2 separate regions of the Homo sapiens genome follow, and region 2 is linked to region 1. A link means that fine-mapping ties the variant in region 1 to the expression of a gene that starts in the linked region. Tissue or cell type: left ventricle. Region 1 holds a variant in brackets; the other region holds the start of a gene. All regions are shown on one strand. Distances are between the middles of the regions.

What was found. PIP is the estimated chance that this variant, and not a neighbour inherited with it, causes the effect.
Region 2: it holds the start of SYT13, and the variant in region 1 is fine-mapped to the expression of SYT13 in left ventricle (GTEx, PIP 0.98).

What each region holds. Positions count from the first base shown.
Region 1 is chr11:45,242,576-45,247,967 of GRCh38, reverse strand. SYT13 (synaptotagmin 13) reads left to right here. Exons shown (of 6, transcript NM_020826.3): 5 at 1,456-1,585; 6 at 3,612-5,392. The coding sequence ends at 3,916. Among named protein-coding and RNA genes, the nearest start is that of SYT13, 41 kb to the left of the region's middle. RefSeq lists an enhancer at 3,837-4,337. The variant G/A (reference allele first, on the strand shown) is at 2,358.
Region 2 is chr11:45,284,084-45,289,475 of GRCh38, reverse strand. It overlaps SYT13 (synaptotagmin 13), which reads left to right and starts at 3,135. Exons shown (of 6, transcript NM_020826.3): 1 at 3,135-3,451. The coding sequence starts at 3,269. RefSeq lists an enhancer at 2,954-3,740.

The DNA.
Region 1 (5,392 bases):
TGTTGTCATTAGAATTGTAATTTATGACCTTTACTAAGAACTTGCTATATGCATTTTCTCACTTCATCCTCTGATATCTATATTTCTTCATAGCATTTAATGCTGCCCGATGTTATATATTTAATCACTTCCTTTCTGTCTTCCCCATGTGACTGCAAGCTTCTTTGAGACTGATTCTGTTTAGTTCATGGCTTTAATTATGGCATCTGGAATATAGTAGGTGCATTGCATATGCTTGCTGAATGAATGAATCCACTAGAGGCCACAGTGAGCAAAGAAAAACCGATTTCAACCCTTCTGAGTGCCTGGTCCAGGATGGATGAACAGACATCCTGGGTGTGACAGAAGGGGAGGAAGCTTAGGGAGTCACGGTGGCTGTTAGCCAGGGCTCCAGCCTGGTACCAGACCTCATTGAATTACCCTCATTGCACAGCTGGGAAAGAGGGACAAAGCTGGAGGGAAGGGCCACAGGACTGAAAGCTGTGACATCTGGAGGGACAAGCTTCCATGGGGCCTTCCCCCACTCCCACTCCCCACTCCATCTTGGCACAGCAGGCCACACATCTGCCTCTTCCTTGGGATTTCGAGGGAAGGGCATCTTCTTCCTGCTCAACAGAGGAGACTTCTGACCTTCAGCTGATCCCTGCCCACACACTCCCTTCTCTTTCCTGCCAGGTCTCCCCAGAGCTTGGATTGCAACCAAACACCCACCTCCTAGGAGGGGTCTTTCGGTCATTCTTGTCCCTTGACGGATTTGTTGAAATTCCAAATAAACTCCTGTACGAATTTCAGGAGAGTTACTCTAAAGCTGCGTGCAGGGATAGATGTGTTTGTTTGGATGCCTCACAGGGGCATCAGCACCTCCTTCAAGGTGTGGTTATTGCCAGTTGCCTCTGGGCATGATCTACCATCATACACCCCAGCACTTCATTGACATTACTTGTCATTCTGTTGATGAAGCAACCTCCTGGAGCTGGAAAGAACTATCTTTTCAAACATAGTAATGAATTACAATTCTCCCGCTGCCCCAGGAACCTGATGGGTCCATGCAGGGATTCTGAAACTGTTCTCTGAGGCCCTAGAGGACAGAGGTGTCCCAGGAGCTTGGGGGTGGCAGAAGGTGAAGGGTAATGGGGAATTCTGGCCTCCTCCCCGCTGCTGCATTCTGAGTAGCCTTTCTTTGTTCTGTTTTGTATGTTGGATTTGAGTATATGGTATATGAAAAATCACATTTTGAGGCAAACAAAGAAACTGCTATTGAAGCGCATGCCGCATGGAATTCCTCTGTGCCTTGCTCTCTTCTGCAAGGGTGGACACCCCAGCATTGACGGGTAAATGGTTTCAAGGATGCGTGTTGGATGCAAATCCAGCATGGTTCCAGCTTCAGCATTTGTTGATGGGTTGGAAGGCGTCCCCAGGTGAGACTCCCCTCCTGCATCTCCTTTTCTGTTTCAGGAGCCATCTGCAGGAGCTGGAGAGGTCCTACTATCCATCAGCTACCTCCCGGCTGCCAACCGCCTCCTGGTGGTGCTGATTAAAGCCAAGAACCTCCACTCTAACCAGTCCAAGGAGCTCCTGGGGAAGGGTGAGTGAGATGTGAGAGGATGGCCAAGGCCCCTCCAGCTACCGGGAGTGTGTGCTGAGGGAGGTGGTGCCTGGGAGGAAATGGTCACAGGTAAGCAGGGAGGTGGAATATGAGCACATCTACGGAGCCATGCTCAGCGGTGTTCTTCACCCTAAGTTCACAAATTGATTTTCGAGGACACACTCACTTCTATGAGTTCCCATCCATTTACTCTTGGATCAATCCCATCCATTAGGACCCCAGTGTGAGCTACCTGGGGTTCCCTACCTTGGAGATCCACTATGAGAACCATCAGCCCTAACCACAGAGCACAAGAAGCCAAGGGTCAGACTATAGCCGTGGAGTGAAGGGCCTGGGCTGTCGGGAAAACTTGGCCCAGCCCTTGTCACCCACACCTGGCTGGACCCACCTTTCAGGCAGATGTCAGGAAGGCCAGGTTATTCCCCTCCTGTCTGAACTCACCACCACTGCACTCCTGCCACCCACCCCAGTCTCTTCTCTCTTCTCAGCCTTTGCCAACTGCCACCCTCACACCAGCTGAGTGTGGGTGATGGCAGAAGGTGTGTGGGTACATGGGCTGAGGCCTGAGGCTTCAGGCGTCTGTGCCCCATATACCCAAATAAGCTTTTCTGCAACACCCTGGAAGCCTCAGTTTTTCCTTCTGGATACCCCAGCCCAGGTCCAGCATCTCGGAGACCAAAACAAGCTCTCCTATATGAGCAGGAAAGCATCCTCAGCTAGCCAGATAATACCTGGACTGGAAGCCACATGC[G/A]CCTAGCAAGATATAAATAAGTCTCTATTTATAGCAGGGTACAAATAAAGAATTGCCACTGCATTCTGAATTTCGAGCAAAAGACTTGGGGCTAATGGAATCAGAAGAGTTGGTCTTGCTGGCAGGTTCCTGAGTCAAAGGTCAAAGTTCAATGCTTTTATCTCATTCCCTTTAGACAATTCTTTGCTTCTTGCTCTCTTTTATAGCTCCTGTCAGGACAATTACAGTACAACACTTCGTCTCTCAACTCTCTCTGTAGAAATAACAAACTAACCTCCCAGAGGTGATAATTACAGCAATAAATACAAAGTAACAATTATTCTCACATTAGCTTTGGAAACATTGACTAAGTAATCCAGTCCAGCCTTGTGATGTGACATGAAAGCTCGCCTGGTGACCTGTTTGTGGATTTCCTTGGGGCCAGCTCTCTTGGTGCAGTGCCCTGGGTTTGGGGGAGCGTGCAGGAACAGGCAGTCTGCCTTCATCCCTCTTCCACATGAAGTTGGGGGTCTTCAAATAAAACTTTAAAAAGTACGGATGAGAAGAACTCAACCAACCAGCAGGGGATCTCCTATTTTGATAACAGACAAACATGCTTACACCAAGAATCAAGGGGATGAAGAGTTGGGAGCTGGCTTCATTTTTCTGGTCTGAGTTTAAAATCCAGCTGCAGGACCCCTGAGCTGTTGTCATGGACCTGGTTTGATGTGAGGATATGAAGTCATGTAGCAAAGGTGGTTCCCTCTTGGTACTCTAACATGCCCCAATCACAGGCCACCCAGTGGCCAGCCTTCTATATCATGGTATTGGCCGTTTCCTACACTTTAGTGTCAGTTCTATGGAGGCAAGAACTTCTGCTGCATCCCCACTTCTAGACCAGTGCCTGCCATAGGGTAGGCACTTAATATTTGTTGAATGAATGCATGGCCTAGTGGGGGAGTGGAGAATAATCCCCAATGCAAGGAAATGAAAGCATCCTGGATCGACTCCTAGAGTTATAGATTGTCCGGGTGGGATGCTTTCCTGCTGGTATAGCAGAGCCTTCTATGGTCACATAGACTTGGGACCTGTGCTGGGGTATCCAGAAGGAAAAACTGAGGCCTCTAAGATGTTTGGGTATATGGGGCACAGATGTCCGAACTCTTGAGCATCTTTCCAGCACCAGGAGGGAGCTTTGTCCTGGGCCCTGCCAGATCCCAGAAACTCACTCTTGTCCCTTCTCTCTGTCTCTTTTTCCCCTCTGCCCCTCCCCAGATGTCTCTGTCAAGGTGACCTTGAAGCACCAGGCTCGGAAGCTGAAGAAGAAGCAGACTAAACGAGCTAAGCACAAGATCAACCCCGTGTGGAACGAGATGATCATGTTTGAGCTGCCTGACGACCTGCTGCAGGCCTCCAGTGTGGAGCTGGAAGTGCTGGGCCAGGACGATTCAGGGCAGAGCTGTGCGCTTGGCCACTGCAGCCTGGGCCTGCACACCTCGGGCTCTGAGCGCAGCCACTGGGAGGAGATGCTCAAAAACCCTCGCCGGCAGATTGCCATGTGGCACCAGCTGCACCTGTAACCAGCTGCCCAGCTGCCTCCCTTCTTGGACAGCCCTGACCCGTCCTCTGCAACCTCCTTTCTGTGCCCCTTTCCTCATTCTGACACCCAGAAGACAGTGACAGATGTGTTTGCAAGGCTGGGATGGCTCTCTCATCATACTCTTGTTTCTTAGAAATAAGCAAGACAGAGCAGGAAATGGAATATGCGGGTCACACTGAGGAATGCATTTTGCTCATCTGTGTTATTGAAGGAGGTGCTTATTAAATACAGTTCCTATGCCTGTTTTATAGGTGGGGTTAGGCCAGATGCAGAGAAAGCTAAATGTGGGAATCATGGATGCAAAGAAGAATTTGGCTTTTTGAAAAACAAGCATTTCAAAAATGATGAAGGAAGTGAAAGTATCCTGGATCAACTCCTAGAGTTAGAGATTGCCCAGGTGGAAAGAAACCTTAGCCAGCGTTCAATCAAGCTCACCATGCAGGGCAGTCACCCGGCAGTTCTCAAACTTTAGCATGTGAAGAGTCACCAGCAGATTCCTGGGCTCGCCTGGAGACATTCCTAGTCGGTATTCCTGGTCGAAGCCCAGGAGCCTTCCTTTTTAACAAGCTGATGTAGAGGGTGGAGCACTGTATGTGGAGAAATTCCTTCTACAATATTCCACACAGGTTTTTGGCCACAGTCCTTGATGGAGTCCCAAAACCATGGTGCAGCCAGTTCCAATGCTGGACACCTCAACCATCAGGGTGAAATCTGGGGCCTCAGCTTTTTAATTTAATTATTTTAATTCTTAATACTTTAATTTGTGCATTTCATAAGCCCCCTGCTCTTGGACTGAATTTTGTGCTTTTTATTGAAGAATTTTATTGTTTTTATCTTAAAATCAGTTTCTATTATCCTTGGGGAGACCATCCCTAACAAAGTACAGGTGGGATCTCCTGTGAGTCATTGGCTGGGTTCTGATTGCTAGATGTCACACCCACCAGCATCACCAAAGTGACTCTGAGATAGACCGGTCCCTTCTCAGCGTTCCAGTCACTTCAGGAGGAATTTAGTTATTGACTTAGTCTATGACATCTGGCTACATGTAGGTAGAGAAGAAAGATAATTTTAAAAAGGAAATCAGGTCTTTTGCAACTGTGCCTCCCTCTGTCTGTTTTCACTTGAATGGGTAAATAACCAGCAGCTAGGTTTTGAATTCCTACCTTGTTATTCTAAACAGATGTCCACATTGTTAATTAAATCTAAATTATGAGCCTTGCTGAGTGGATACGGTACTTACACCTGAACCAGGATTCCTGGGTTCTGTTGTTGACATTGCCCTTCAGCACCTGTTTGGCCAGCTGTGTAAGATAGGACTAATGACTAGGAAGCCTACCCCAATGAATGATATACTAGATGAAATAGTGTTCAAAACCTGTAGGCACTCTCTGGCTAAAAACAAACTCTGAGGCCACCAGCAGATCATCTTTAAGCTAAGTTACTATTTTTCACCTTT
Region 2 (5,392 bases), 42 kb before region 1:
CATTTTGAGTTATTTGTTACTGCAGCAGAATCCAGTTTACCCTGACCTAAAACACCATCCCAGTTGTCATTAACTCCTACTCTTTGGGCAAGCCATGATGTCTCTGAATCTCCGTTTCCTTATTGGTAAAATAAAAGGATTCCACAGGTGATATCTGAAATCGTTGCAATGTTAAAATTCAGTTATTCCGCTGGTATATTTTCCTCCCTCCTGCATAGCACCATATGTAGACACCACAAATGTTTGCTAAATAAGAGAACCTCCTATATTTGAAATCCTTTTCTCCAGATAAAAGCATTTTAGTACCTTAGAAGTTCAGAGTGATTATTCAGAATATTTAAACATCTAACATGTACAATATTGATCAAAATAACAATGGGAACATTTCATCAAGAGGCTGGGGAACCTTCAAAGATCCATCCCTCAGCCTCGTAGATGCCTCCTAAGCATCTTGCTCTGTCTGCTCTTAGAAATGTGGCCTCAGCACTTCCAATTATTTGTGGGTCCCAGCCTCAGACTGTCTTAACTGATCCACTCAGCTGACTCAGTTAACTGCCTTTCCCAATAGGCATACTCTCATTTTTCAAAGGAACCTAGTGATGCCTTTTTTCTGTGGGTTGTCATTAAAGGCCACTGTCTGCATATCAGTAGCCAAGAAGCAAACATCGTATCTTTGATGAGATATATGAGGGTGACTGGTTGGGTAGCAAAGGTAGCCCAGAGTCCTGATCACTCAACTGGGCTTTGGATCCCCTGGGGTCTATTCCTAGCTCTGCCATAGGTTCACTGTGTGTGAAAGAGGCACAAGGCAAGCTCTTCTTCTTGGGCTGGGGTCCCTCTTCCTGTTATAAATGAAGGCCACTGCAGCTGCTGTCATCCCAGTAACCATAGTAACAATGGATCATGTGACAGGTGTCTGATTCCCCATCAGACATTTTCTGATATTAAGTGTTCTTCATCCTTCCCCTTTAACCCCACCCCAGATCCTGTTATGAGTAGTGGCATTGATGGTCTCCCAGGGCAGCCGTTTGAGCATGGGAGACCTGGAGCTGACAGCATTAATTAAACCTCTATTTCCACAAAACATTTTGCATTGCCAGGCCCGGAGCCAAGAAAACCTCCCAGGGCAGCTCTTATGTGAGAGATTGCTAAGGCTGTCACCAGGGACTGCAGTGCTTCAGCTCTACAGTTTGCAGCAAATGGGGATCAGTAGGAAAATGTGCCTGGCATACAGCAGGCACACAATAAATACTTGTGGAAAAGTCAGTTTACTAAAATGGAGCTCATATCACAAATGGGATTCCTTCAAAACACTGGAAATTCTGCATAAGATGATCATATGAATTATTCCACGGTTACTGAGTGCCTGCTATATGCACCCATGGGTGATAACATGGAGACTCTAAAGATGTTAGCTTGTTGAAGGAATCCCAAGTCCATGGGGTGGCTGAGGCTCAGGGGCACATTGGGAAGTGTGTAGAGAGGAGTCTGGAAGGCTTAGCAGGGACCACATCACAAAGGGATTTGGATAAAGGTTGAGTCTCTTGGGTTTATTCTTGGAGAACCTTTGAGAGCTGTGAGTGACATGATCAGCTTTGTATTTTGGACACCTCCTTTTGATGTCACTGAAGGAAAGAACTAGAGGGAGACTATTGTTTTGATCAAATAGTGTTCTAGAATTTCTGAACCCAGGCCTTAAGACAACTGGCAGCTTCTGCTTCATTCCTCTTAGAATCCAGCCAGCATGCTGTGAGCAGCTCCAGCACCATGGAGAGGTGACATAGAGGACAACCAAAATGCACCAGCTGACAGCCCCATTGTGATCCCAGTGGCAGCCAGCACCTACTGCTCACCACGTGAGTTCACCATTGCACCATCTGCAATGGTGTCTGGAGAGCTGATGTCCCAGTCCAGCTGAACCCCTAGATGACTGCAGTCCCAGAAGACAACATGTTGAGCAGGAAAACCACCCAACTGAGCCCAGCCAACCCATGAAATCATGACAAGTAACACAATAACTGGTCTAAGCCAGTAAGTCATCGGTGGGTTTTTATGCAAGTGTAGATAGCTGAAAAACTGGAGGACGGGTGGGTTCCCAGGTGGTGGTCACAGCTACAGCTCAGAGGAAAAGGTCTGGCTGGAGAGGCTATAGATTTAGGAGACATTGGCTCATAGAAATGTGAAAGCTCTGTTGTGGATGAAATCACCTACATCCCTTTTCACACATGCCCAGCACACCTAGAGCACAGCCAACCCACAGCAAATATCTGCTGAATTAAATTCAACACTCCATATAATGAAGAACACTAAAAAGCCACTGTTTTCTTGAGCTAAGACAGTCCTCATGCCCGGAATTCTAATTTCCCCTTGTTCTAAGCATAGTTTTATGCTCACCCTCTCTGAATCAAGTGTGTACTCCTAGCTGCTGCATTTTATCTTCTTTATCCTCCTAAGACAAGTCCGTTTGAGTGTGGACTTGGAATCTGCAAACATAAGCTTGGGTTCAGGGTGATGATTTTTCTACCTGTGCACCTCTCTTCTGAGCCTCGGCTTCCTCAACTATATATAAAGGTGCGAATACCTGCTGATTAGGTAATAAAGGTGAACTCTTGGGCAACCCTTAAGGGGATGCAGCTGTATTGTCCATCTTCAGCAGGACACAGGTACAGCCTCAACCCAAACATCCCATCTGTTCCCTCTACCTGTGGCCTGTTCCTCTTCCCTGTAAGAACCATCTCCCAGGTTGGGGAGCTGGGAAATCTCCAGCTTTGTGTTTGAAAAAGCTCCCGGAAGACCCAATTTTACAGCCAGCTTGGCCAGCTGCTGGGGTAGAAGGGTGAGCAAGGAGCTAGTAGTCTGGGAAAGTGACTCCTAGAGTCGCAGATCTGGTTGGAGCCCAGGTTTGTCCTCTAACACAGTGTGACCTCCGCAAGCTCCAGCACTTCTTGGGCCCAGTTGTCCCCTGTTGTACACAAAGCATTAAGAATGGCCTGAAACAACCCCAAGGCTCCTTCCACCTGGAAGGCTCCGGCTCCTGTTGGGGTGGGGGTCCGGTCACGTGTTGGCGGGGAGGGGGTTGCCGGTTGACGTGGCTGCGGGTCCAGCCTCCTCTGACGTCCTCGCAGCCGTCCTCCCTCCCTCCGTCCCCGCCCCTCTGGCGGCGGGAGAGCTGCTGGCTCGCCCGGATCCCGGGAGCTGCCTGGAGGCGGGCCCGGCCCGGGGAAGGTGAGCGGCTGCGGGACCCAGCCCCTCGCCGGGAGCGGGCACCATGGTGCTGTCGGTGCCTGTGATCGCGCTGGGCGCCACGCTGGGCACAGCCACCAGCATCCTCGCGTTGTGCGGGGTCACCTGCCTGTGTCGGCACATGCACCCCAAGAAGGGGCTGCTGCCGCGGGACCAGGACCCCGACCTGGAGAAGGCGAAGCCCAGCTTGCTCGGGTCTGCACAACAGGTGAGCGGGGGCGGCGCGCAGGCCCTTCCCGGGCAAGGCGGGGTTGCCGGGCAGCTGCAGAGGGGGAACTGGGGTGGGAGGCGGTCGTGGATCTTTGCGCGACAAAGCTTGGCGGGGAGGGGACAGCAGACGCGTTGGAGGACAGGTCAAGGAGTCAAAAAGGTAGGGGGATGGGGGAGGCTAGGGGATGGGGGAGACGAGACCTGAAGGAGAATTAGGGAGCGGCGAGCTTGTGGGGACTGAGAGAAGAATGGGGGCCAGCAGCGAGACCTAAAGGGAGGGGACAGGAAAGGGGACCTGGATAAGAATTAGGGCTGGGAAGGGTAAGAGGAGAGGGAGGCTGGGAGGGGAATCGCCAGGGTTAGGGAAGACCCTGAGAGGTACCAGAGAATGAGGAGTTTGCAGAATTGGGAAGAAGACTGGGGTCTGTGAGAGGGAGATGGGTGGTGGTTGTGGAGCCAGGGTAGGGCAAGTCCTGCCAGAGCTGAGAAGAGGTAATGCCTGCAAAGCCAGAGGGGAGGTGGCCGCGGTCCCGCAGGAGCTGGGAAGCTAGCTAGCGGGGTCTAGAGAGCTGAATCCGGGAGGAACCTGAAGGACTCTTCCCCACCCCCTAGCAGCTCTGAGCTCCAGCCAGTCAGAGGGGGTTGGTATGGCCTCCCCCAAGATGTCTCTGCAGACGTCCCTGGAGACAGGAGGGCTTTTATCCCATGCATTTGCTCATGGCCAGAGCCCCTTCGTGCAGGAAATAGCCCGTGCTCCCATTGTAAAGAGCAGCAGAAGGGGTCTGGGGAAGCAGTTTGGAAGGATTTCCCTGCATAGGCTGTGACCTCCAGGATGCATTTCCAAAGTACAGAATGCAGAATGTTCTCTGGAGAACCAGGAGGCAAAGAGTCCTGCTAGAGTGATTTGAGGAAGGATGGCCCTGGGGCAGGGGCATGACTTAAAGGACCTCCTAAAGGCCCTCTAGATCCCTTATAGACTGTATGGTTCCAGGAGTGGCACTAAAATGCTGTGACTCCATCTTCCTTTTTCCAATCAATAATTCAAAAGCTCAGAGGACCCAGTTGTGTGGGGCCTGTGTCAGTCACTGTACAGTGAGAGTGGAAAGGAAATGGCTGCTGTCCTTGAGGCACTTATAATCCAAGAACAGTGACATTGACAGTGGCTAAATAGGAGCCGGCTGCACAGCAGAATGTGGGACTTGGGACGATCTGGAAAAGGGGAATAGTGGGCTTTCCACTGGCCAGGTGTTGGGAGTCCTTCTCCACAAGTCGTGGTCGGCCGCCTCTCAACCTTCTTTCCTGCCCAACACACTTGAGGAACAGCCACTCTTCTGCCTTTCAGTGATGTCTCTCCAGGCACCGCCCCCTCCCCTTCCTAGAGAGAACCACTGGGAAACTAGTTGGTGTAAATGACCTCTAGGGTCTCTTCCAACTCTTTGTCTTATTGATGACCAGTAGCCCACAGAACGGCTGATCATCTGTTAAAGAAAAACCAGGTTGTGTCTCTCCCCTGCTTCAAATCCTCCACAACTTCTCACTGAGCTTGGAAGAGGTCATAGCAAACCATGACATAGCATACACTGTGTGCCAGGCGCACTGTTCAGAGTACACTAATTAATGTGTTTCTTGACCCAGTGAGGGAGCCATAGAATGATCCTAACTTAAAGATGAGGAAACTGAGGCTTAGAGAAGGTAACTGACTTGCCTAGAGCTGCACAGCTAGAGAAGTTTTAGAGCCAGACTCTAGCTGAGCTTGTCTGATTCTGGTGGCCACACTATTAGCCACTCCTCTCCACCCACTCACCTGCTTTAACATGGAAGGTGCCTGCCTCTCCAGCCAAGCTCATGCCAGTTTCTTTCTTCATCAGCAGTCTTGGCTTCCCTGGATTTACGATCATTCTTTTAAAACACCAAGCCCTTTTCTGCCCCTTCATTTTTC